Linked DNA regions of Homo sapiens. The protein of the gene in region 1 purifies or fractionates together with the protein of each later gene. This does not show direct contact. Each region holds a gene or a part of one and is shown on either strand. Other genes may lie near its edges. The genes, in order: GML, EIF2A, TMEM67 and LRIG1.

Region 1 (2,598 bases):
GTTGTCAGGGTTCTGAACTGTGCACAATCCCTCAGACTATAGATAAGTTCAACCCAGTGTAGAAAACTCTTCGATGTTGTCGGCTAAAGCTGCGTATCAAACACTGAGACTCAGCGCTTCTACTCCTAGGTACATAGCTAATTATAAAAAAGCTTATACAGGCTCACCTTAAGGCAAATACAAGACAAGAGTATTCATTGCAGCACTATTTGGAGTAGACAAAAACCAGAAACAACCTCAATGTCCATCAACAATAAATTGTGGTATGTTCACCAATGTAATGCTATGCAATTTTGAGAATGAACAATATACAACAGTGTGCAACAATAGGGATAAATTTCATAAACACAGATTAGAGCAAAAGAAGCCATCCACAAAAGCAGATGTAATGTATAATTTCATTTCATAAAGTTCAAAACCAAACAGAACTAACCTATAGGTTTAGAAGCCCATACATTTCCTGTCTTTGGCCTGGGCTGCTCACAGCAGTGTCTGCATGGAGGAACAGAGTGAAGAATCCTGGGGCTCTCTTGCAGCTCTGTTTCTGATGCTGCATGCTGAGTACTGGCTGTGGGCACTTGGTGACAATCCATTGAGTTGTGGACTTATGGTCAGGCACATTTCTGTAGAATGGTGAACTCCAATAAACTTTTTAAATGGAAAATAACAGAAAACAAGTGACTGGTTCGTATTCATCATTTGTTTCTGGTGTTATAGAGGAGACAAGACCCAGAGCCATGAATAGATAAATCAATTATGGTAAGTTCCAGAATAAAGTATTTGTGTAAACACTGGATAGACTTCAAGGGGAACAGAAGTAGTGATGAGGGCCAAGGTATTTAACCCTGGGATTCTTGAAGGAGGTGTTAGATGGAGCTTTGGTCAGGTGGCATTGGTCAGCTGAGGCCACTGGACAAGCCCTCTAGTGAAGATTATTGATCACATTAGTCGTGATCACATTAGTTGCGATCGATAACCTTCACCAGAGGGCTTGTCCATCGGATAACACGTACCTAGTTGGAAAGGTGCATCAAGTCTGTACTGGGGAGGAGGTTGGCACCAAGGGTCAAGAGCATTTATATGTTGGTCCAGGAGACTGAAACACCAGGCTGAGGGTCCCAGGAAGGAGTTTACCCTAGAAGGGTCTTGCCAACTGCAGAAAATCTAGTTAAGGCTACATTAATATGGACACCTCTGTTAAAGGTCCATGTGATCTCTAGACCATAAGTGAAACATGATTTCTGGTCTGCATTTAATTTCTCGGGCTCTAGAATTCTTACCATAAGAAATGAACAGGACATTTCATTGCGTGTAGCTACATGACAAGGTACCATGATACCATTTTGGGAGGGCCAGAGGCCTAAAGATGGCAGCTTAGATAGAAAACTATCTCCAGAAGAAGTTGTTCTGGGAGTGATGAGACCCGCTAGTGGACTTGGATGTTCTCTCTTAGTCAAGTGTTCTAGACAATTTTATCACAGCTGGGAGTGTAGAATGTGTACATGGAGCTAATTATGGTTGAATGTGAGGTGTATGTGCCTCAATATTTACAAGCAGAAAATGTGAAATCAATTATTTTCATTGCTGCTTCTTTTTTTAGGCATAAATTCTCGTGAACTACTTGTTTATAAGAACTGTACAAACAACTGCACATTTGTATATGCAGCTGAACAGCCTCCTGAAGCCCCAGGAAAAATCTTCAAAACTAATAGCTTCTACTGGGTTTGTTGTTGTAATAGCATGGTTTGCAATGCAGGAGGACCTACTAATCTTGAAAGGGACATGTTACCCGATGAAGTAACTGAGGAGGAGCTTCCAGAAGGAACTGTGAGGCTGGGGGTATCAAAACTGTTGCTGAGTTTTGCCTCTATCATAGTCAGCAATATATTGCCATGAGGACCCCACCTTGGAGGGTCTGACCATCTTCACCTGTTCCGCAGAGAAATGTTGCTCTCCATTATTCCCTTCTAAGCCAGAGACCCTTATCCACTGCTCCTCTAGGTGGCCCATTTATGGTTTGTTGTAAGAGAAAAATTAAAAAAATATTGTTTAGTGGAGATGTTCATGAGCATTTGTTTGCCTGCATGTACTTGAGCACTCATAGTGGAGTCTCTATTCATATCTGTTCTTCCCTCCCTTGCTCTGTATTCAGGGATTACTTTGTGGTTTTATTATAATCAGTTGCTGTAGCTATTAATTGATTTTGGTAGTTTTGTCTTTGTGCTTCATACTAAAGTTATGAGTGGGTTGCACACTGCAGTTATAGCATTGCAATATTTTGGTTTGTCTGTGTACTTAATTTTACCCTAGGTTTTATACTTTCAGATGTTTTCTTTTTATACGTGAGTGTTTTTTTCTTTCAGTTTGAAGAGCTCCCTTTAGCATTTCTTGTAAGACAGATGTGGTGGTGGTGAATTCTCTCAGCTTTTGTTTGGGAGAGACTTTATTTCTCCTTCATATTTGAAGTTCAGTTTTGCTGGATACATTATTCTTGGATGACAGTTGAGGATTTTTTTTTTCTGTTCAACACTTTCAAAATGTCATACCACTCACTCCTGGCCTGTTGAGTTTCCCTTAAGAATTCTGTTGCCAGATGAA
Region 2 (7,047 bases), on another chromosome or scaffold:
AAACTTGATCCTTCTTTCCTTTAGTATTAAGTGGAAAGGAACAATGTTTTCTTTTTTTTGTTTGTTTGAGAGGGAGTCTCGCTCTGTCACCCAGGCTGGAGTGCAATGGCCTGATCTTGGCTCACGGCAACCTCTGCCTTCTAGGTTCAAGCAATTTCACCTGCCTCAGCCTCCCAAGTAGCTGGGACTACAGGCACGTGCCACCATGCCTGGCTAATTTTTGTATTTTTAGTAGAGATGGGGTTTCACCATGTTGGCCAGGCTGGTCTTGAACTCCTGACCTCAGGTGATCCACCTGCCTTGGCCTCCCAAAGTGCTGGGATTGCAGGTGTGAGCCACCGCACCTGGCCTTTTCTATTAACATATATTGACTAAAACTATTAGTAACTGACTTAATATCATATTTATAAGTGTTTATAAGTGTTTTTCCTTAAATGGTAACCAATATCATAAATTACTTTAACATGTTAATGTGATGTTACATTCTGTCTGAATATTTTTTATACTTTTTTTTTTTTTCATTGACATAGGTGTCCATCCTGGTCAGAAGATGAAACTCTTTGTGCCCGCAATGTTAACAATGAAGTTCACTTCTTTGAAAACAACAATTTTAGTATGGAAAGATTTATGACATAATTTTATTACTTACTGTAATCGTATACAGTTTCCATTAACTTTTATGACATCATAGGGTTTTCCTAAATACTGTTAATCTATTAATCAATAATTACTCTTACATACATTTGCATAATTCTTTATAAGTCTGAATTCAGTGAAAATCTGTAACACAAAGGTTTTCTTTTACAATAACTTTTTATTATCTGGTAATTGCTATTAAGACATTTGAATATCTTTTCCTGAATTTAATTGCTATTGAAATTCTGTGACACAAATTTTTTAGATATTTTATCGTGTAGAATTTTAAACTTCAGACACCTAGTTCTAGTAACCATCAGCTTGTGGCCAATCTTATCTCATCCATACATCTCTCCAGCTACCATCTCTTACTAAGTGAAAGCAAATCCCAGATATGGTTATACTTTTATATACTTGTTAAATATGTAATTGTAAATATTTCAGAGTAGATTTCTGAAGATTGGGGCCTTTCATTTTTTAAACTTAGCCACAAAACCATTATCACAAATTATTAAATATGTGTTCAAATTTCTACTAATTGCAAATGTTACAATTTTTTTTAAAACTCGGGATCCAAATAAGGTACTGCACATTGTGGTTGATTGATATATCTTTTATGTTTCTTTTGGTCCTATAAGTTCCCACTCTATCTGTTATTTTATTCTTCATAATTTATTGTTTAAGAAACAAGGTTATTTGTCTTTCACGTTTTCCCATAGTTTGAATTTTGCTTTTGTATCCCATGGTATAATTTAACATGTTCATCTGTCCCCTATAAATTGCAAGTTGGCTCTAGAGTTTCAGCTTCAGGTTCTTTTTTAGGTGAGTAAGGGTAAGACTACATTATAAGGTGATGTTCACTTCTTTTATCAAGAAGCACATAATGTCTGGTTGTCTTTAATTTTGTAGGCTTAGCTGACATTAATGTTTCATGCCTGGATGCATTATTTCATCAGTGGTTGCAAATTGTTGATACTCTGGTTTTTTCTCCCTCACTTATTTTTCAGCTGTACTGCTTCTATAAAGAAAAATTTCCCCTTCTACTATTTGGTTACCTAGTGCTGCATTTATATAGAAAAGGCGGGATAAATATTCTTGCTCTTATCAGTTTTAATATAATGTATTCCACCTCTAGCAACCTTCATTGTAACCAATTAGCTTTTTCCCCATTCTTGTTTTTCGAGAGTGGGCCTCATTCTTTTGTCCAAGCTGAGTGCAATCATGGCTCACTGCAATCTCGACTTCCTGGGCTCAAGCAATTCTCCTGCCTCAGCCTCCCAAGTAGCTGGGACTACAGGCTTGCACCACCATGCCCGGCTAATTTTTGATTATTTGTAGAGACAGGATCTCATTATGTTGCCCAGGCTGTTTTTTAGTTCCATTCTTTTTTTTTTTTTTTTTTTTTTTTGAGATGGAGTTTCGCTGTTGTTGCCCGGGCTGGAGTGCAATGGTGCGATCTCGGCTTACCGCAACCTCTGCCTCCCAGGTTCAAGCGATTCTCCTGCCTCAGCCTCCTGAGTAGCTGAGATTACAGGCATGTGCCAACATGCCCGGCCAATTTTGTATTTTTAGTAGAGATGGGGTTTCGCCATGTTGGTCAGGCTGGTCTCGAGCTCCCGACCTCAGGTGATCCACCTGCCTCACCCTCCCAAAGTGCTGGCATTACAGGCGTGAGCCACCACGCCTGGCCTTTTTAGTCCCATTCTTAATGAGCTGTGGATTTAAAAGGTATGTGTTTCAGTCCATTGTAGTTATTTTTCTTATTGATGCTCAAATTGTCTCATCTTTGATCAATTAATCCTTAGTGACTTCTTTGCTATATGGTAAGACAAGTCATTCTAGGATTAATTTGTACATTTCTAACCATTACACCTAGAACTGGCTAATTTTTCAGGAAACCCTGTCGCCTTTTTGGTGTGCTACTTTTGAATAGCTATTGATCTCTGAAATTGAACAAAGAAAAAGTATTAGCTCTTGATCTCATTGAAGGAAACATTAAAAGGTAATAGGGTTTCTTGAAAAATTGGCTGAGTCTAGCAAAAAAAAAGGTATTTAGGTTCTAGAGATTCTTATTTGCTGTTGCATTGATCATTGTTTCTAGGCCTTTTTTTTCTATTTAAAAGATGTAACAATCATAATTTTATTTAAATTAAAGTTTTATACGTATAGTTTTATTTAAATTGAAGACTACAAGGTTTTTATTTAACTTCTATCTTATTTGTATTGCCTTCTGTCACCACCAAGAATCTTGTTACTCTGGAATACCAGGGATGATAATTTGAGAATATCACATTCACATAAGTATTCATTTGGTTTGTTCCACATTATCCACAAGGTATTCTTACAATCTTAATACCAAAAAGTAACACTGTTACTGAAAATAATTTTTTAAAAAGGGTTTGCAGTTCTTTTGTCTTTAGAGCATCCCATTACTGATTGTACAGTTTTGAGTATATCATAGTTAGAATAGGAATTGGTAACTTTGTTCACACGTACCAAAGATGGCATGTAGGCTGATTTTGAGCAGCATCCAATCAGTATAGTTATGCATTTTATTTTCCTGTGTTTGAGGCGCACTGTCACCTCACTGTTTCTGGGTTAGCTTGCTTTCTTGTCTTATTCTCCTCTTTGTGAGCATGTCAAATGAAGAGGGATCACCACTTTGACAGTTTGGTGTGCTGCTTTTGAAAAGCCATTGATCTCTGAAATTGAACAAAGAAAGTATATTAGCTCTTGATCTAATTAACTAGAGTGGCAGTTTTATTAATAATAGCATGGCTCAGACTGCCTGGAATAGAGTAAGCTCTTAATATCAGCCATTGTTACTGTGGTTGTGATCATCATTATCATGCATCTGTTTATCACATTAAGTTACAGAATTTCCATATCCACATTCTGCAGTAGCAGGCCAAGGTTGATCTTTTCCTTCTAATAGGCTCTAAGACCACTTTATTTCAGCGATTGAAGAGAGGATAACTGACATTTATCAAATACCTACCATGTGCCTGGCACTCTTCTCTTAAAACCAATTACTGAGAGTTGGGTGGTATAATCCCATTACTTGCCTAAGCTCACACTGCAAGTAAATGACTGAGTAGAAATTGAAGCCTACATTTGTCTTGCTCCTACCCCATGCTTTTTCCACTGTGTTACTGTATCTCACCAGGAGGAGACTACAGTGAGTAGTATTGGTGTGTAGTTATAGTGATCTTTGATAATGTATTCAGAGTTTAACATGTTCCTTTTAGGTTCTCTCATCAATCTGATTTAATTTACTCTTTTTTTTAGACACAATTGCAAATAAATTGCATTTGCAAAAAATTAATGATTTTGTATTATCACCTGGACCCCAACCATACAAGGTAATTGCTGTTTTTGTTTATGTGTAATATTATGTGTTTAAACCTTTTCCTAGTTTTTTGTGATTGTAAAAACATGTCCATCTCAGTTTTTATTCTTCAAAAAATTAAGTAATGATTTATGTCTATGTATCTTAGGTGGCTGTCTATGTTCCAGGAAGTAAAGGTGCACCTTCATTTGTTAGATTATATCAGTACCCCAACTTTGCTGGACCTCATGCAGCTTTAGCTAATAAAAGTTTCTTTAAGGCAGATAAAGTTACAATGCTGTGGAATAAAAAAGGTATGTTAAGTATATTTTATCCCTCCCTTTGTTTATCAGTTGTTAATTTAGGCTATATTCCTATGTGTATAACAGAAGAATCAATGCCCATTTGTGTTTTAAATCTAATTAAAGTTTTTACTGTTATAGCTACTGCTGTGTTGGTAATAGCTAGCACAGATGTTGACAAGACAGGAGCTTCCTACTATGGAGAACAAACTCTACACTACATTGCAACAAATGGAGAAAGTGCTGTAGTGCAATTACGTGAGTATTCCAGCAGTCTTCCTTTGATTAGAAACAATGATAGTAAAAAATACTATGCCATAAAGATGATATAATCTAAATTCTTGATCAAAAGATAGAATTCATATGCCTTAATAACCTTTAAGATAAAATTTTTCTTAATTAAGAAACTTAAAAATCATCCTCCAACATACCTTATTTTGGCAGAATACAATTAGTTATTTGAGTTACGCCATCGTTTTAGAAGTGAACTTCCTGAGTAAGGTAATTCCATTGTAGTAGCTCTTTTGGAACTTACTTAGCTAATTATGACGGCAAATTGCTTAATACTGTCTTTAGAATTGTTAGTAATATGCAAGAGGCCAGGCATGGTGGCTCGTGCCAGTAATTCCAACACATTTTGGGAGTCTGAGATGGGAGGATCATTTGAACTCAGGAGTTCAAGACCAGCCTGATCAACATAGTGAGACCCTACCTCTACAAAAAATAGAAAAAGTTAGCCAGGCATGGTGGCGTATGCCTGTAGTCCCAGCTCCTCAGGAGACTGAGGCAGGAGGATCACTTGAGCCCAGAAGTTCAAGGCTGCAGTGAGCTATGATCATGTCACTGTACTTCAGCCTGGGTGAAAGAGCGAGACCCTGTCTCAAAATAATAATATCCAAGAATGTTACCACTTCATCTGTTGTTTTAATGAACTAAAACTTTAAAATAATAGTTTTAAAATACTGATAGCGTCCTAATTTTCTCATTTTGAATTGAACATGTGTAAGTAGGGTAATCTATGTTTTAAAAAAACTATTTCCATTGAAGTCAGAGAAAAAACAAGGATGGCTCCCCTTTTCACTTTATTTTAATAACATTCTGAAATACCTAGTCACTATAATCAGCAGAAGTAAAATATATACAGTTTTGAAAGAAAACAAAATCATCTCTGCTCATGTAGATGAAGTCACACTATAACAGCTACTTTAAAAAAATGAAAGATTCCATATATAGCAAAAATAATAAGAACAAATATATAGGGCCAATGAGAAGAAAACTTTAAAACTCTTCAGAGAGACAAACTATGACCTTTACTAAGAAGAATTATTTTTATAAAGATGTCATTTCTCTCTTGTCAGTCTAAAACTAAATTTAAATGCTAACTGATTTTTTTTTTTTAACTAAATAAACTGGCTGTAAGGTTGGTGTTGAAAAATGAACACACAAGAATATTTTGGAAACTTGTGTAAAAGAAGAGCAGGGCAGGGGAAGTTATCTGGAGTTCTGACACTACCAGATATTAAAATGTACCCAGCACTTTGGGAGGTTGAGGCGGGCAGATCATGAGGTCAGGAGATCAAGACCATCCTGGCTAACATGGTGAAACCCCATCTTTACTAAAAATACAAAAATTAGTTGGGTGTGGTGGTACATGCCTGTAATCCTAGCTACTCGGGAGGCTGAGGCATGAGAATTGCTTGAACCCAGGAGTGGGAGGTTGCAATGAGCCAAGATCGTGCCACCGCACTCCAGCCCGCTGACAGGGTGAGACTCTGTCACAAAAAAAAAAAAAGTAAGCCAATTGTAATTAAGACAGTTTGGTTGTGGTATATGGATATACTGGTAAAACTGATAAATCAGTGGAAGAGAACAGAGTCCAGAAGTAGATCCATACTTTTGTAGACATTAATATATAATAAAGTCAGCATTTGAATCAATGGAGGAGAAAATATTGATCATTTAATATGTGGTTTGGGATAACTGGCTAGCCATTCGAAACAAAAGGTTATTATCTTCTTCACAAAATAAATTCTGGTTGGGTCAAAAACTTATACATAAGACTGCAGAGGAATTAGAAGAATATATGGGAGAATTTTTTTTCTAATCTTAAGAGTAGAAAAAGACTTTTTAAACAAGATAGAAGTACTAAGGGGAAAAAATAATGAATTTGACTAGAGAAGAATAATGGATTATTACAATGAGAGAAGAAAAGAGTCCATAAATTAAGCAAAATGAACAAAAAGTTGGGGAAAATATGTTTTTTAAATAGTCAAGTGATAAGTATGAGGAAGGTCAAATTTTCTTAATATATCAAGTAAGCCAAGTAAAAGACCAATAATTGGAGAAAAATAAAATAGGCATAGGATAGTAAAAATTAGTCCTCAGAGCCGGTGCAGTGGCTCATGCATATAATCCCAACTATCTAGGAGGCTGAGGTGGGAGGATTGTATGAGCCGAGAAATTTGAGGCTGCAGCAAGCTAAGATCCTACGGCTGTACTGCAGTCTTGGTGACAAAATGAGACCATCTCTTTAAAAAAAAAAAGAAGAAGAAAAAAAATCAGCCCATAGAAAAAGAAATAAAATTACTTACAGTAAAAGATGCTTAACTTATAATTTAAAAAATACAAATGAAAACAAGATAGACATTTTCACTTAGTAGGCTGATGAAGATAAAAATATGAAACTACACAGTATAGTTGAAGGATAGTGAGGGGGAAGCCTGCATCATCAAAAACTGCTGACAGAGGCTGGGCACGGTGGCTCATGCCTGTAATCAATCC
Region 3 (4,775 bases), about 49 Mb from region 1:
CTTTCCATTAAGCCACACTCCTCACTGCTCCTTGACTTACAGTTATTTCCCCTCAGCTTATATTTGTCAATATTTACAAAAAAAACACATGCTTCATGCTTGTAAGTGCTGAGTTAATGATCATTTTGAATGTTCCTCAATGTAGGTCATCAGCAAAGCCTTCTGAAAAGGCAGTTAGGACAGCAATGCCAGAGAAGGAAGCATTTACAAATCTCCCATAACAGAGGCACTGGTCTACAGAAGTATTTTAGGGGCCTGTATGTTTCTAAGGAGCATCCAAAGTACACAACAGCTTATAAAGAACCTCTCTAGGTTTTGTTTCATTATGAAATGAAGAGAAATCAAATGTTTCTAGAAAATCAGTAAAATCAGGGATATAAGAGTCAAAGTATAGTGATTGGGTACTACAGAAATAGACAAAGGGTAATGAATCTAGTGAATAATTATGCACATGATCAGGAAATGTAAATTGTGACAATGTGAACAAAGGAGTCGACAGTGTATGAAAATCTGAACACATTTTTATGCACCTAGCCAAAATAAAAATATCATACAAAATTTAGAATGATTTTAAATGTTTTCTGTTTTAATTTATCAGCAAGTAAGCCAATTGATCCTTTATTGTGAAATTTAATACTTAAAAACTTTTGCACTAAAATTAACTTCTTCTATGTTGAATGATGGTTGAATTTCTTTCATATGCTTCTGAGTGAGTGGTTTTAAATATCCATGCCATATAAGTACATGTATTTATCTCTGCAGCTTTTATAAAGGCATTCCTGTACTGTGATCCTTCAGAAACTGCAGTTTCAAAGACTTCCTTTTCAGTCATCCTCAAGATTCAGGGAAATGTAAAAGATTCAACTTTGGCAATGGCTGGGACCTCTGCCCCAATAATGTTATATTCCTAAATGGTACTCCATCAGATATACATTAATGAAACAGAAAACAGAAATACCAAATGTTTTAGTATATATTTTCATCTGAGAAAATATAAATAATATTTATACAGTATTCCATTTTAAGTATTTACACAGCATTAACATAGAAAGCAGTGAGAAACATGATACATTTACAGTGTTTTGTTTTTGTTTTTTCTGAGACAGGGTCTTGCTCTGTCATCCTGGCTGGAGTGCAGTGGTGCTATCTGGCTCACTACAGCCTCCACCTCCTGGTTTCAAGCTATTCTCATGCCTCAGCCTCCCAAATAGCTGGGATTACAGGCCACCACATCCAACTAATTTTTGTATTTTTTGTAGAGATGGGGTTTTCCATGTTGGCCAGGCTGTTCTTGAACTCCTGACCTAAAGTGATCCACGTGCCTTGGCCTTCCAAAGTGCTGGGATTACAGGCGTAAGCCACAGCGCCCAGCCTTACTGTTTGTTATTTACAGTCTTTAAACGTAATTGAAAAGCAAAACTCTGGAAGAGAACTCTTAAAACATTAAGTAATTAAAATGTATAAAAAATGATATTGGGAAAAATGTCATACGTTATAACTTAATAAATGTAAACTATATTAGAAATGCAAATATATTTCATGGAAAGCGTATACTGACCTAATACAGGTATACAAAGGAATGAAAAGATATCATTTCATGAGATGCATATTAACCCAACAGTGAATTAATCCACTGCCAAAGAGGATGAGCAATTAGAATGATGCAAATTGAATCAGCAATAATACAATTTAAAATTTCTAAGTAAACTTGAAAATATCTTTCAACATTTATTTAACCATAAGCACACAAAACATGAAAATATCAAACTGAAAACTAGTCTTAAACTTGGAATCAAATTACTTTGTCAATGTGAGAAGATTCAGGCAGCTCTCAGTTTATAAAATAATCTACAGAGACAAATGATGGGGACTGTTTTAATTAGCATTAAAAAGTATTATGCTGAAAGCAACATTTAGATTTTTTTTGGCCTCACTGTCAGTATTAATTTATTATTTACTGCATTAAATACTACACACAATGGGAAAACAGTATTTTCTATTATATCAGGTTATATATTCCCAAGTTATAAAAATAAATCTTTCTGCAAATAAAAAACAAAAACAGAATAGTCTGCATTATAAGTTTTAAAAAATATGGCAAACTAACCTGATATCATGACTTTTTTTTGGCCATGATTATACTGAGTCTTTAAGTTATTTATTCAGGAAGTTAAATCAAAAATCTTTGATCCACCAATGTTTTGGATGCCAAATTCTTTTGTCCTACTGTATTACGGATATATCTAAAAATCTGGAAAATTAAAACAATTCAGAATGAAAAGAAATATAAACAGAATTAAATATGCACGTCGATTAAAATATCTAGATTAAATTAGCTAATTCTCTCAACTATTTTCATGTATCAGGTATCTGAATCCCATAGTGATACATAAAATTATTTCAAGATGATAATTTCTTTCATAGTTTCATAGTATGTTCCCATTTAGAGTAAATTCTTATGAATTAATAATACAAATTCTCTCATGTTCACAGAAATACACTTTAAAATATATAGAAAGGCAACTTTCTTCTAAGTCTAAAACTACGGAAACATCAAAAGAATCTACTCACTAGAGATAGAATTTCTTCACAATTCTAGATCACTGTCAAGGACTAATAAATTGCATCTTACTTATATATACTTCTTTGACATAGTGGAGAATATTTAGTTGATAATAACACCATTTCAAGAACAGATTTGCCAATTCTTGAAATCTCTATTTCAGGGTCCACACTCATACATGAAGTTGCTTTTTATCCACACAGGTGGGGGAGGTGTCAAAGCTGCAAGCTTTGGTGCTGAGCCCTGAGCTAGCTCTCCAGTGCTTGTTTTTTTGTTACTTAACGTCTGGAGAGGGTGGATGGGACTCTAATTACTGTTCACTTGTAGCATCTAGGAGACTAGCAGTTAAGTGTCTTCCTATAGGATTCCTCTTCCATGTATAATCAAGCAACTTATGCCCTCCACTAGACCCCAGTATTTCATTGACCCTAAAGGACAGAGTACAGTTGGTTGAAATGTTATTCCTTCTTTTGGTGGGGTTAGTCATATTCTAAACCTTTACAAAATTGTAGTAAAAGTAGACATTGTTACTCTCTGCTATGAAAATATCTACTTCTAACATATTTCTCTCAAGAAAATGAAGGAAAATGTAGAAAAATTTTAAAAGTTTACCTCTTGTTGTAGATATGTAAGGAAGGATGCTAAAATAAAATTTTGGCAAGCCAAATCCACAACACAGAAGAACAGCAGATCAAAAATAAGAAGAGTAGCTTCATTTCCATAATACAGGACACTGCTGAAAGAATAACCTTCATCTATTAAAAAAATTTAGAAAATATAAATTAGAAATTTAAAAAAGGAACAAGTCTGTGATAAACTTCTGGTGACAAAATCTGGATGTTTAAAAACAGCACATTAGAAACATACTGTATACAATACTTCATGGCTTACACAAAAATAAACAAACATTTTAAGATTTGTTCATCTAAAAGAGGTTAGTTAAAAACTCATAAAAACTTCTAAAAAGCAGTTTTAACATTAGGACCAATGGTTGGTAATTGCTAGTAGTGTAAGTTTCAAAGACCATTTAATAAATAGCCTTTCTCTATTTCTTTATACAACTAAAAGCTAAATTAGTCTTACAAACATTCCCTAAGATACAGTAAATCAGAGAAAAAACCAGCAAGGCATAGAGTAAGTACATAGTGTTCAAGAGTTCAAGAATTTATCTCAAATAGTCCCGCTGAGGTTTTGCTCTAAGACCTCTTCTCACTCCACCAGCGAGTTTCATCCTTATTGGGATGTGAACACCCTTTTAAAAAGATTATGATGAGGCCGGGCACAGTGGCTCATGCCTGTAATTCCAGCACTTTGGGAGGCTGAGGCAGGAGGACTGCTTGAGGCCAGGAGTTCAAGACCAGCCTAGGCAACATAGTCAGACTCCATCTCTACAAAAAAAAAAAAAAAGAAAGAAAGAAAAGCTAGGTCTGGTGGGTCTGCTGGTGCACACCTGTAGTCTTAGCTATTTGGGAAGCTGAGATGGGAGGACTGCATGAACCAAGGAGTTTGAGGTTATAGCGAGCTATTAATATGATTGCACCACTGCACTCTAGCCTGGGCAACAGAGCAAGAACCTGTCACTAAAAAAAAACAAAAAAAAGCCCGATGAAAGCTATAGATCTTTCCATTAGGAAAAAAAAAAAAAAAGTATACATAAACTTGGGAGGCCGAGGCGGGCAGATCACGAGGTCAGGCGATCAAGACTATCCTGGCTAACACGGTGAAACCCCGTCTCCACTAAAAATACAAAAAATTAGCCACGCATGGTGGCGGGCGCCTGTAGTCCCAGCTACTCAGGAGGCTGAGGCAGGAGAATAGCATGAACCTGGGAGGCGGAGCTTGCAGTGAGCCGAGATCGTGCCACTGCACTCCAGCCTGGGCAACAGAGCAATACTACGTCTCAAAAAAAAAAAAAAAAAAAAAAGTATACATATACAACTCTTGCAAACAATTAAACAATTTCAGGGAAATCCAGAGAACCACTGAAGCAGCCCATGGACACCCAGTTAGGAACATCTGCTTTATACAAGAGGGCATGTGGAGTGCTGGTAATGTTCTCTCTTGAAAGGGTACTAGTTACAGGGGTATATTCAGTTTGTGAAAATTCACTGATCTATAAGTTATATCCTTACAAAATATGCACATTACACTTGCATATATAATCTTAAAAAACCTGTTTTACATGCTCTCTCTTGGTGATTTTCTACTAACA
Region 4 (7,047 bases), on another chromosome or scaffold:
CCCACTGACATCATGTAACGTCTGGGGTCTGGCTTAAGAGCCAAAGCACTGGGGCATCTCCTGCAGGCCCTGAGGGGTCCCTCTCGTAGGCAGGGACACAGCTCACCATGGCTGTGTGCTGGCTGCCAGGACATCTCAGGTGCAGACAGCTGTGGAGCCAGCTTGATGGATGCCTATTTTACTGTCCTCTTCTTGCCTCTTTTGGGAAGCTTTATTCCCAGAATGCACTTTTCAGAAGTGGGTGGCAGTTTGGGGGTTTTTGTTTGTTTTTTGTTTGAGACAACATCCCGCTATGTTGCCCAGGCTGGAGTGCAGTGGCGCAATCATGGCTCACTGCAGCCTCCACCTCCTGGGCTCAAGCAATCCTCCCACCTCAGCCTTCTAAGTAGCTACGACTACTGGTGCGTGTCTCCATGCCCGGATAATTTTTTAGTTTTTGTAGAGACAAGGTTGCCCTATGTTGTCCAGGTCTCAAACTCTTGGGCTCAAGTGATCCTCCTGCCTCAGCCTCCCAAAGTGCTGGGATTACAGGTGTGAGCCACCATGCCCAGTCATGGTCAGCAGTTTTAATTCCGAAGATTTTTCTTTCCTTTTTTGACTCAGCTTCCTCTCACTGAAACCATAATCAGTCTCATCTCTCCATCACTAAACTTCACCACCCAAGGGTTGGTGGTCCTTGGAGAGAGACTGGGCCAGACAAGGTGATTTCTGCCTAACACTGGGAGGGGCCTTTTTTAGGCCAGACGGCACATGCAATTCCAGCCTATCATCACTATTAAATTCTAATAAAGATAAAAGTATTTCATTTCAGAAAGGGGAAGGCCTGCGTGCCTCAAACCCGTAATCTCAGCGCAGGTCAGCTTTCCACCTGCCCCTCACTGGACAGACTTATCAGGTAGCACTACCTTAATTGTGTGTTTTCTTTTTCTTTTTCTTTCTCTCAACCCTTCCTGTTTCGCTTTCCTTCCCTGGCCTTAATTTCTGGATGTTTGGAAACTACAGGACTCTGTTTGGAAACAAGATCAAGTCTGTGGCTAAGAGAGCATTCTCGGGGCTGGAAGGCCTGGAGCACCTGTGAGTATCTCACCAGCCCTGCCCTGAGGCACAGCCTGCTGAATGCGGCTGCCGGGGAGTTCTGCTAGCAATTTAATCGCATCTTTGTAAACTGAGAAACAGGCTATTTGGAAACACCAGCTGCTTCCTTCTCATTATGTCAGCTTCAGCTTTGGCCTTTATGTTGCCTATGCCAGGAACAGTTACAGAACATATGGCCAGTGGATGTGCTCCCAGTTAATTCAGTTGGTATTTGGATAAATACCCTCCCCCCTCCTGCTGCGCAGCCTAACCCCTGCACTGGCTCCTTCATGGACCCCTGGCCTCATTGCCTCTTCCACCAACGCGCTTCCTCCTGGCCAAGCCTGTTGCCTCCATTAAAGCAGCTTAACAATGCAGAGTAGGTGCTGGGCTGAACCAGTTTGGTGTGGTTGCTTCTGAGACCCTGGGAGGAAGGGAACAGAGCCACCCGAGACAGTCATGCTGTTGCCATCTGGGGAGGATGCCTCATGTATGTGATTCTTAGTTTGTTTCCTCTTTGAATCAAGTTTGACTCTAACTCTGTTGGGAAAGGTTTTGCCTTGCTGAGCAGGCCTCAGCCCAGCTTTGATGGTGCCCTAAGGCTGGCTTGGCTCCTGAGTCATTCCATGGGCTTGTGTTGCGATTTGGGAAACAACAGCCACTTATAGTAGTTAGGACACAGGTCTGGCTAGTCCCTGTGGGTCATCTGTGAAACCAGGACTGTCCTGAAAACCCCTCAGGTGTACCTAGGGTTTCTTTGCATAAGTAATGTATGTTCTGTTTCAGGAACCTTGGAGGGAATGCGATCAGATCTGTCCAGTTTGATGCCTTTGTGAAGATGAAGAATCTTAAAGAGCTGTAAGTATCTGGATTCCCTGGGTCTGATTAATGGTAGTGGAGACTTTCAGAGTAAGAAACTTCTGCAATTGCATTATGCTCACTTGTTAAAAGTTCACATGGTACATATTTTGGATTTTGTGGGCCACAGAGTCTCTGTCATGACTACTTGATTGCATCATTGCAGCAGAAAGCAGCCATAGACATTACATAAGCAGGTGGGTGTGGCTATGTGCCCATAAAGTCACATTGACAGAAGCAGGCAGTCGGGCCGCAGGCTGAAGCTTGCTAACCACTATTCTAGGCAATGTGAAATATACTCTCCTCTATAAAGTGGATAATCACCCCTTCAATTATGTCAGGGCCAAGTTTTCATCTTTTGGGCTTGCTTACGATAAAGGCCTGTGTTGAGAGGGTCTACTTCAGAGCCTGGTGGGCTGTGAGCAAGGCAGAGCTCTGGAGGGGATGGGATGCTTAGGGGTGCAGTGGTGTCTGCCCATACCATTTCCAAGCTTTCTGGGCACGGTTCACAGGTGGTGGTGCTGCCACTGTGGACTTGGACTGTGGGCTCTTGGGTGACAAGGTTGGAAAAGCTTCCCTGTATCCTACTCTGGCAGGGGAGCTAGTCTGGGTCCTCAGGTGTAACACCCAAGTTTTCCTTTCTGGTTTTTTTTTTTTTTTTTTAGCTAGACATGAATCTGATTCTACAGCCAGTAAGTTCTAGCCATGATATCAGTTCCCTGAAGGGGTAACTTTTGGTTCCTAGAAGTGCTGACAGAATGGCAGATGCCACAGGACAGTCATCTTTGTGCCCTGACCTCATCCCCATTCCCCGAGGCCACTCTTGATGAACCCTCAGTTGGGGCAGGGAGGCTGGGACTGGGGAAATGAGGTGCATTCCCCATAGCTGGGAACTGAAGCGGGCCGGGTGACACCAGACTGAGTGAGGAGGGAAGGTGGCCTGGGCACTTGCCCTGTGATGTTCAGCATGCTGTGAGCCTCAGGCCTGCTGAATAGATACCGTCCTTGCAAGGGTTGGATCTTGGAGCGGGTGTCTGTGACGGGTTCATGGAGCTCAGGGCTCTGCAGACAGCTGCTCCGTGCCCAGGGCCTTCCCTCTTCCAGCCTCAGCAGCTCTGCCTCCATCTGTCGGGTGAGACGGAACATACAGAAAGGATTCCATGGCTCTCCTTCCAGAGCAGGGGAGGAGATGATTCCAGACCACCGTGGAAGGGAAGGCTGGACTCAGAGGTGGACTCGCAGTAAAGCAAGTGGAATGAAACATTGGTTGTAGAAGACAAGCGGTGGGGCACAGGAGCATTCACTGTGGAATTCTTTCACCTTTTCTGTCTTTGAAACTTTCAGATATGATGTCAGGACTGAAAAATACCTGATTCAATTTAAACGGGAAGAAGGTATTTTGAGAGAAGGAGGGAGGAGGATAAGATTTTCCTTGGGAAGTTGGGAGGAACTGGACCCTTCCAGAAGCTTGGACCTCCAGCGTGCTTCTGCATGGTTCTGGAGGCTCAGCCTCGGTCTCCTGCCTGGGTTTCCCATCGTTGCTGCATATACCTCGCTGGAGCCGGCCCTGTGCCCAGTCCTCAGATGAGAGAAATGGTTAATTCCACTTGGTCGTCTTTTTCTCCATCAGATCAAGTCAGGTTGTACTGTGCACTTAGTCATCCTCTGGGTAAATTTCCACAAGTGATGATTAGAAACACACTTTGAGTTGGAATCGTGAAAATGCACCATGTGAGCCAGCAAAGCCCTGGGATGGCAGCAGAAGGCAGTAGAGCCGATGGCGCTGTGCTCTCCACGGGTGGAAGAAGGGCGGCAGGAGCCTGCAGAGCCTAGGGGTTGGAATCCTCGCTACTGCCTGGCCCCAGGCCCTCCCCATGTATCCTCTCAGTCCTAACTTGCTGTTTAGGAACATGCTGTCTCCACCCTGAGTACCCACTGTCTTCCTGGAGTCTGGCCTCCTGTCTGAGGTGGGTTTCATGGTGGAAGAAGTAGGAAATCCTCAAAGGCGTTAGCCCCACACGTCCAGGGCGTGTGTAGGATGAGGCTTAGCCCTTTCTACATGTGTCTGATCAAAGATAAATGTCAAATTTGTTTTCCCGTTTGTTCCTGTGGTTCAAATGGAATATGTCCTTGTGTCCTGCACAAATGCTTAACGTCGCACAGGGATGGCCCAGCCTTCTCTCCTAGGCTTTCGTGAACAGTGCCCAGGCTGTTCTGCCTGACTGCACGGAAGTGCCCTCTTGCTGGGGAGCTGGAGGTGCTTCTGACAGCGGAGAGTTCTCCATCCAGGCTGAGTTCCCCCCATGCCTGGCGCAGCCAGCCCTGACCCCCATGCAGGGTGCACTCCTGGGAGCTGCCCTCCCCAAACACTGCATGGGAATTGACCATTTCCTCAGGGATGGCCGTTACAGCCCTTCCGCCACCTGCAGTGACTCCACAGTAGGACAGCCCTCCAGATGGCTCTCAGCAGAACGCTACCTGCCCGTGAAATAAAAATGCAAACTCTCATGCTGATTTTAAGATCTAATATGGGCCAGCATCCCAGTTATAATGGCCTTGAGATAAGTTATTTCTGTTTTTGGAAAAGCACTTTCCAAAATTATAATTATTTTAATAAGATGCCCAACTCATCTAGGGGTGATGGGGAACATGAGGAAGAGTGGATTTTACTTAATTTAGCCTTGGGTCATCTGCTTACACTTCATTCTTCCTTGCTGTGACAGTTTCTCTGCTCATTAGAAATCTGGAGAGAAACAGAAGAAAATGGAAGGCCAGTCCATTTGGTTGCTTTGTTGATGTCTGAGGACAGTGGTGGGTGGAGAAGGCAGCCAAAGTCGTGCTCTTGGCCTGCATGATGTTTTTGGAATTTCTGCGCATACCTGTGCCTCCTGTTTGTCACCATGTACCAGAGACAGTGTATTGCAGGGAAGCCTGTGTGCTCTCTTTCCCAGTCTTCCCTTATCGTGGGCCAGCCATCATTCTTTAGCTCACAGCTCTGAGGTCTTCCAGGAACAAGGCAGCTAGACTCTTGGTTGACTTATCTTCAAGTGACTCCTCAGGAAGGAATGTCCGCTGAGATGGCGATTCCGATTTCTGTTTAAAAAGCTTATCCTTAGTTGCTGAGAAATGAAAAAGAAAATATTCTCTGTTTTGGTTGGAGCCCCACAAAGCTAAAGTTGTGCATTCTCATGCTCCCTGGGCAGTGGCAATTAACTAACAAGCACTATTTAGGGAGCAGAGCCGAATTCTGCCGGCCCCCTGAAGAATACTGGTGCAAAGATCAAGGCACAAACAAGAGGGTGGCACAGTGACGGGGCTTATTACATTTGGAAGTAAGAAAACATGCAGCTTTGCCAAATGGAAAAGGAACAGCCATGAGGCAAAAGAGCCCTCCTCGGAACTTGTTGCAGAATTTGGATCAAAGTCTCAGGCCGAGTTTGGAAGCTCCAAGTAGTTTATCAGGAAAGTGGGAAAAACCAGAGGGGGGATGGTGGCAGCATAGCACTGTTGGATGTATCAGAGGTCAGGAGAGGTCAGAAGGCAGCCCAGGGTCACACAGGAACAGTGTCTGTCCCAGAACATGGCATGGATAAGCTCCACGTTGCTGCTGCTCCAGTTGCGGTCCTTGGGTCAGCAGCCCCAGCATGATACGTGAACTTGTTAGCAGAGTCGTGGGTTCCACTCCTGACCCACCCAATCAGCAACTGCATTTTTTCAAAATCTCCAGGTGGGTTATATGCACTGCCCTGGGAAATTGGAGAGGAAGTGTGAGAAAAACCATTTCCCCCTTCCAGCTTGCTGATGTTCACTTGAGAAGCTGATTGGAGGCGACTGATCATTGTGTGTGTGAAGGGAGTGTCCCTCCTTTGCGGCTGCACCTGAAGCATCCACTGTTGTGTTTCTTTCAGCCATATCAGCAGCGACAGCTTCCTGTGTGACTGCCAGCTGAAGTGGCTGCCCCCGTGGCTAATTGGCAGGATGCTGCAGGCCTTTGTGACAGCCACCTGTGCCCACCCAGAATCACTGAAGGGTCAGAGCATTTTCTCTGTGCCACCAGAGAGTTTCGTGTGCGGTAAGACTGTCTTTGTAACTTTTTCTCTCCTTCATGAAGGACAAGGAAGCCAGGAGGTACTCTTCATTATGGGAGTAATTCCTGTGATCAGAGTAAACCCCAGCCCGTGGTTACAGATCAGCTGCTGGATGCAATTTATTTCTTGCTGAAACCACACACAGTATTTACCGTAGAGTTGCCTCATTATGTGGTTCTTGGAGGACATGCATTTAATCAGAAGGGAGTATAAGTTGGTTCAGTTACAAATCAGAATAATCAGTTACAGGAAGATAGTTCTGTTGTTTCAGAAGGGCTCTGGTGCCCGGGTTTAGCTGCGAATGTACTCCGCGTACGAGGCTGGCGTTTTAATGTGTGTTTCTTTCCGACCCCAAGAATGAAAGGTTAAATACAGGAAGAACAAGTCTCAGGAGAACAGTTGCTGTAGTAAAAATAATTCCTTGATGTTGACTTGTACTCTTGCTGTTTCTCCAAACCACTGAAATCTGCACTTGCAGCTTTACATTCTTTTTGCCTTCTGATTCCTGGAGCGTAGCTCTTGCCATCTTTTTGACTGGGAGTCGGGATCCAAGTTTGGTTGCAGAGAGCACAGAAAATGCTGAACAGCTGAAAACACACACGCAGGCTAGCTCAGACAGGACTGACACAGGCTCACGGTCAGGAAGACATGGTCAAAAAATGAGATGAATTTTGAGTTTTTCCTGTTTGCTTGCTCTAAGCAGGAGCAAGAGTGGGATTCCCAGGCCTGACTGGAACTGCTGGGCAGGTGTTAAGTCCCTCCTGCCTTTTGTGCTCACTGGTCTCCCTTGAGCCTTGAGATCCCTGCTGTGAGGATCCTAACCAGGAACTCACCCATCCATATGGCAACCCTTGTGGGCCACTTCTGTCTCCTACTTTCTGGCCATAGCAATAGCCATTGTGCCTGCTGGAGTAGCCAGTGTGCCTGCTGGAGGCAAGATGTGTGTGCCCTCTCCATGCATCCACCCCTACCTTCACCATCACCACTTTTGAGAACAGGCCTGCTGAACTTCCTCTGGATCCAGACC

Evidence for each region.
Region 2: the proteins of GML (region 1) and EIF2A purify together in Homo sapiens (affinity purification with mass spectrometry; 2 studies listed by BioGRID and IntAct, with this or other methods). This does not show direct contact.
Region 3: the proteins of GML (region 1) and TMEM67 purify together in Homo sapiens (affinity purification with mass spectrometry; 2 studies listed by BioGRID and IntAct, with this or other methods). This does not show direct contact.
Region 4: the proteins of GML (region 1) and LRIG1 purify together in Homo sapiens (affinity purification with mass spectrometry; 2 studies listed by BioGRID and IntAct, with this or other methods). This does not show direct contact.

What each region holds. Positions count from the first base shown.
Region 1 is NC_000008.11:142,844,795-142,847,392, forward strand, and holds the end of GML (glycosyl-phosphatidylinositol-anchored molecule-like protein precursor), read left to right. Parts: intron 1-1,600; coding exon 1,601-1,896; 3' UTR 1,897-2,057; downstream 2,058-2,598. UniProt on the Homo sapiens protein: May play a role in the apoptotic pathway or cell-cycle regulation induced by p53/TP53 after DNA damage.
Region 2 is NC_000003.12:150,563,769-150,570,815, forward strand, and holds part of EIF2A (eukaryotic translation initiation factor 2A), read left to right. Parts: intron 1-530; coding exon 531-613; exon of another isoform or gene 614-3,338; intron 3,339-3,924; coding exon 3,925-3,998; intron 3,999-4,133; coding exon 4,134-4,278; intron 4,279-4,407; coding exon 4,408-4,524; intron 4,525-7,047. UniProt on the Homo sapiens protein: Functions in the early steps of protein synthesis of a small number of specific mRNAs. Acts by directing the binding of methionyl-tRNAi to 40S ribosomal subunits.
Region 3 is NC_000008.11:93,813,848-93,818,622, reverse strand, and holds the end of TMEM67 (meckelin isoform 1 precursor), read right to left. Parts: intron 3,319-4,775; coding exon 3,176-3,318; intron 2,252-3,175; coding exon 2,171-2,251; 3' UTR 502-2,170; downstream 1-501. UniProt on the Homo sapiens protein: Required for ciliary structure and function. Part of the tectonic-like complex which is required for tissue-specific ciliogenesis and may regulate ciliary membrane composition.
Region 4 is NC_000003.12:66,392,997-66,400,043, reverse strand, and holds part of LRIG1 (leucine-rich repeats and immunoglobulin-like domains protein 1 isoform 1 precursor), read left to right. Parts: intron 1-1,002; coding exon 1,003-1,074; intron 1,075-1,860; coding exon 1,861-1,932; intron 1,933-5,840; coding exon 5,841-6,004; intron 6,005-7,047. UniProt on the Homo sapiens protein: Acts as a feedback negative regulator of signaling by receptor tyrosine kinases, through a mechanism that involves enhancement of receptor ubiquitination and accelerated intracellular degradation.